Regions from separate parts of the Homo sapiens genome. Here region 1 is linked to region 2. A link means that fine-mapping ties the variant in region 2 to the expression of a gene that starts in the linked region. Tissue or cell type: whole blood. Region 2 holds a variant in brackets; the other region holds the start of a gene. All regions are shown on one strand. Distances are from middle to middle.

Region 1 (2,760 bases), 81 kb before region 2:
CCTTCAATGGTTCACTAATGTCTTGCAGATTAAATTCAAACTCCTTGGTGTGCTAAACAAAGCACTCAAATATCTGGCCCCTTCTACGCGCTTATCGCTCATCATACCCTCTCTTGCATTCACTTAGCTGGTGGTATCAAACTTCTCAACAGTTCCCTACACAAGAGCCTGTTTATTGATCCTTCAGCCTGGAATTACTTCCCTTACCCGACTCAAGACTCTAGCGCCACCTTTGCTATGAAGTCTCTCTTGACCATACTCACAGATAGAACTGATTGTTCCTTTGTGTGTATGCCCACACCCTTACAGGCCTGGATCTTAAGTCTGTTATCACTGCGTTGCGCTTATTTACAAGTATCCGCTGTCCCACCCACGCTCCACTTAGGCCTCTTTATACCCCTAGGTACTCACACAGAGCTTGGCACAAGTGATGCTTTATAAATGGTCAATGAATGAACGTAGTGGAAACACAGAAGAAGAGGGAGAAGAACTGGGGAAGAAAGAAGCTCTGTGGAGAGAATACTAATTGTTTTGCACATGAAAATAATGAGTTGTGAGGGAGGTCAAAAAGGTCAAAGGGAAGAGCCCTGCCTTACAGGAACTCACTGTCTGCTGGGAGGCAAGAGGTAAGGTCCGCATACCAAACACACGAAGCAATGAGCTTATCGGGGTGAAAATGGCTCGTGCACATTATAGTATCACAGAAACTTAGAGGCTGGGGGAGGATGGAGAGGAAACTGGCCTAGTCAAGTGTCTTCTAAGTGTTAGGCGGTTTTCGAGCGTTAAACAGTTTAATCTTTACAACCACCCCATGATGAGGATAGTAGCTCCATTTTAGGGACGAAGAAACATGCTCAGAGAATTTAGGTTGCCCAATGTCACAAACTACCATGTGGAAGGACCATAATTAGAATTTAGGTCAACTGCCTCCAGAGCCCTGAGGCTTTCGCTCCCCCTCTCTCGGCGGTCGAGACCCACAGGGCTCCCATTCACCTGCGCGTCGGCCTGCGCTAGCTATAGCCCTCAGGCGCGCCGCGTTCCGCGCACTCACACCACCCTCTGCGCGCCAGCCCTGCGTCCCTCCCACGCGAACTGCGCCGGCGCGTCCAGCCCTCCCGCCCGGGGGAGGGGCGGGGTTGCGTCGCTGCCGCTGACCCTTGAGCGCGCGGCGGCAGAGGCGGTGTCCAGGCTTCCGGGCGGGTAGTCCTTCGGCTCCGGAGCCGCGACTGCGCTCGCCTAGGTGGTGGGCGGGGAGGGAAGGAAGGGAGCGGGCGCAAGGCGGCGGCGGCGGCTGCGGGTGAGGAACTTGTTGCGCCCGCGGCTGCGCGGTGCCCCTCCCTCCGCTCCAGTTCGTCGGGGCGGGCGCGGCGGCGGCGGCGAAGGAGGAGCGCGGCCGGGGCGATGCGGCGCTACCTGCGCGTCGTGGTGCTGTGTGTGGCCTGCGGCTTCTGCTCGCTCCTTTACGCTTTCAGCCAGCTCGCCGTGTCCCTGGAAGAAGGAACGGGCGGCGGTGGCGGGAAGCCGCAGGCCGCGGTGGCTTCCTGGCTCGCGGGCGGCGGACGCGGCGCCGTGAGAGGCGCCGGCGTCGCGGGCCCCGCAGCGCATCCCGGCGTGTCGGACAGGTACGGGCAGTTCCCGGTGTGGGGGACGCGGCGGGCGCGGGGCGCTGGGCGCGGGCTCGGCCTAGCCCGGGCTGCTCGCCGGTGGGTGCCGCGTCTCCCGCGTCTTTCCTCCTGTCTCTGACCCCTCACTCATTTCCCTCCTTCCCCTCCGGCCGGGGCTAAACCTGCGCTGCTCCCGCCTGAGAGTGTCCTACACTTTCTGTGTTTATCTTTTGACCCAGTCATGCGCCCTTTAAAGCAGTTAGAAATTAATTTTCAACTTTTTAAAAAGAGGGTTCTTTGAAAATAAGAGGTGTCCACAAAAGCCTTACTGCTGCCTGGCTAGTGAGAATTTCCTCTTGTTTCAGTGGAGTTCAAGTTGAGATATTTAAACATGAGGCTGGCGCCCTAGTTCAGTGTTTAAGGATTGTGTGTGTGTGTGTGAGTGTATATGTGTGTGTATTTTGTCCCTCATGCTGATTTTCCTGTGTTAACGCTTACACTTCTAAGTATTAGCCATGGTTAGTTAAATTTGGAAATGGCATTTGTGCGGGTTGTGAAATTTTCTTTTGGAAACACTCAGTTTATTAAGAAACTTAGAGCAAATTAAGAAAAATGAGCGATACTTGGCGTGCTCAAGTCTGTTGTTGGATGGGATGGAGTTACCTTTCTTGACAAATTGGTATTTAAAAAGCGACGTAATGACTTAGGACGTAATCACTGCCAGAGTGGGAATCAACATGAGATTTAAATAGAAAAAAAATGTTTCTGTCAACGCATTATGAATGCTTGAAATCTGAGCGTTTGCACTGCCTTGCAACATGGACACTTCCACCTTATGTATGGGCATCTCTCTGGGAATGACCTGAAGTGCTCCCTACCAAGACTTGGCAAATGCTGCTTTGATATAGAGAAGTATAGGGTTTGTCGGAAGAGGGAGTATAGATCAGTTGTGGGCTGTTGTTTAACATCATTTTGAGAGTCGATGGTCATTCCCAGAATGAAAGGGGAAAGTTTGGGCAGAGGAGCAGCGTGGAAAGCGGACTTGTCATGTTTTTACCCTGAGATTTGATTACAGTCAGGGTAATTCCTACATCAGGACCCTCAGTTGTCTGTCCTGGGAGAAAGCAGTCACTGAAGACTTGAATGAGCTCGTGAA
Region 2 (2,760 bases):
GTTAGTTGATGTAGTTTCTTCCTAGCCTTGATGGTCTTTACGATTTGGCATGTTTTTGCAGTGGCCGGTTGTTCCTTTCCATGTTTAGTGCTTCCTTCAGGAGCTCTTATAGGGCAGGCCTGGTGGTGACAAAATCTCTCAGCCTTTGCTTGTCTGTAAAGTATTTTATTTCTCCTTCAGTTATGAAGCTTAGTTTGGCTGGATATGAAATTCTGGGTTGAAAATTCTTTTCTTTAAGAATGTTGAATATTGGTCCCCACTCTCTTCTGGCTTGTAGAGTTTCTGCTGAGAGATCAGCTGTTAGTCTGATGGGCTTCCGTTTGTGGGTAACCCAACCTCTGGCTGCCCTTAAGATTTTTTCCTTCATTTCAACTTTGGTGAATCTGACAATTCTGTGTCTTGGAGTTGCTCTTCTCGAGGAATATCTTTGTGGCGTTCTCTGTATTTCTTGAATTTGAATGTTGGCCTGCCTTGCTAGATTGGGGAAGTTCTGCTGGATAATATCCTGCAGAGTGTTTTCCAACTTGATTCCATTCTCCCTGTCACTTTCAGGTACACCAATCAGACGTAGATTTGGTCTTTTCACATAGTCCCATATTTCTTGGAGGCTTTGTTCGTTTCTTTTTATTCTTTTTTCTCTAAACTTCTCTTCTCGCTTCATTTCATTCGTTTCATCTTCCATCACTGATACCCTTTCTTCCAGTTGATCGCATCAGTTACTGAGGCTTCTGCGTTCGTCACGTAGCTCTTGTGCCTTGGTTTTCAGCTCCATCAGGTCCTTTAAGGACTTCTCTGCATTGGTTATTCTATTTATCCATTCATCTAATTTTTTTTCAAAGCTTTTAACTTCTTTGCCATTGGTTCGAATTTCCTCCTGTAGTTCGGAGTAGTTTGATCGTCTGAAGCCGTCTTCTCTCAACTCATCAGAGTCATTCTCCACGAAGCTTTGTTCTGTTGCTGGTGAGGAGCTGCGTTCCTTTGGAGGAGGAGAGATGCTCTGATTTTTAGAGTTTCCTGTTTTTCTGCTCTGTTTTTTTCCCATCTTTGTGGTTTTATCTACCTTTGGTCTTTGATGATGGTGACGTACAGAGGGGTTTTTGGTGTGGATGTCCTTTC[T/C]GTTTGTTAGTTTTCCTTCTACCAGACAGGACCCTCAGCTGCAGGTCTGTTGGAGTTTGCTAGAAGTCCACTCCAGACCCTGTTTGCCTGGGTATCAGCAGCGGTGGCTGCAGAACAGCAGATATTGGTGAACCGCAAATGCTGCTGCCTGATGGTTCCTCTGGAAGTTTTGTGTCAGAGGAGTACCCGGCCGTGTAAGGTGTCAGTCCGCCCCTACTGGGGGGTGCCTCCCAGTTAGGCTACTCGGGGGTCAGGGACCCACTTGAGGAGGCAGTCTGCCCATTCTCAGATCTCCAGCTGCATGCTGGGAGAACCACTACTCTCTTCAAAGTGGTCAGAGAGGGACATTTAAGTCTGCAGAGGTTACTGCTGTCTTTTTGTTTGTCTGTGCCCTGCCCCCAGAGGTGGAGCCTACAGAGGCAGGCAGGCCTCCTTGAGCTGTGGTGGGCTCCACCCAGTTTGAGCTTCCTGGCCACTTTGTTTACCTAATCAAACAACTAACTTGGCAATGGTGGATGCCCCTCCCCCAGCCTCGCTGCTGCCTTACAGTTTGATCTCGGACTGCTGCGCTAGCAGTGAGCCAGACTCCGTGGGCATAGGACCCTCTGAGCCAGGTGAGGGATATAATCTCCTGGTGTGCCGTTTTTTAAGCCCATTGGAAAAGCGCAGTATTAGGGTGGGAGTGACCCAATATTCCAGGTGCCATCTGCCACCCCTTTCTTTGACTAGGAAAGGGAATTCCCTGACCCCTTGCGCTTCCCAGGTGAGGCAATGCCTCGCCCTGCTTTGGCTCGCGTGCAGTGCGCTGCACTCACTATCCTGTGCCTACTGTCTGCCACTCCCCAGTGAGATGAACCCAGTACCTCAGTTGGAAATGCAGAAATCACCTGTCTTCTGCATCGCTCACGCTGGGAGCTGTAGACCAAAGCTGTTCCTATTCGGCCATCTTGGCTCCTCCGAGAAATGATTTTTTTTTGAGAGGGGGTCTCACTTTGTCACCCAGGCTGGAGTGCAATGGTACGATCTTGGCTCACTGCAACCTCTGCCTCCCTGGCTCAAACAATCCTCCTATCTCAGCCTCCTGAGTAGCTGGGACCACAGGTGTGTGCCACCATACCCAGCTAACTTTTTGTATTTTTGATAGAGATGGGGTTTCACCATGTTGCCCAGGCTGGTCTCAAACTCTTGAGCCCAAGTGATCCACCCACCTAGGCCTCCCAAAGTCCTGGGATTACAGGCATGACCCACCATGCCTGGCCCCGAGAAATGATTTTAAAAAGTAGCAAATGTGAATTTGAATGTGAGTCAACAAGCTTCATGTATCTGAAAAGTGAATATTGAATGATAGCTCGAATAATCCATGCTTATCACAAAAGAGAATTGAACTCTCAGTCATATACCTGTAACCTAAATACTGAACTATCTTGATGGAGATGTAACAAAGTAAGATGGTTACATCTTTAAACTTATATGATCAAGTTGATAATTTTCTTTTAAATGAGAAAAAAGAAGATAGAAGCTTATTCTCTCACATAAATGTAGTCAAAGCTGATTTGGAAGTTCTGTTATTATCAGGGACTCAATCTCCTTCTAGCCTGCTCCTTGGTCATTCCTAACAAATAGCTTCCACCAGTAGTATAAGAA

What was found. PIP is the estimated chance that this variant, and not a neighbour inherited with it, causes the effect.
Region 1: it holds the start of GXYLT1, and the variant in region 2 is fine-mapped to the expression of GXYLT1 in whole blood (INTERVAL, PIP 0.97).

Annotation. Positions count from the first base shown.
Region 1 is chr12:42,143,288-42,146,047 of GRCh38, reverse strand. It overlaps GXYLT1 (glucoside xylosyltransferase 1), which reads left to right and starts at 1,174. Exons shown (of 8, transcript NM_173601.2): 1 at 1,174-1,622. The coding sequence starts at 1,402. RefSeq lists an enhancer at 747-816 and silencers at 977-1,476, 1,557-1,786.
Region 2 is chr12:42,062,295-42,065,054 of GRCh38, reverse strand. No RefSeq gene overlaps it. Among named protein-coding and RNA genes, the nearest start is that of GXYLT1, 81 kb to the left of the region's middle. The variant T/C (reference allele first, on the strand shown) is at 1,117.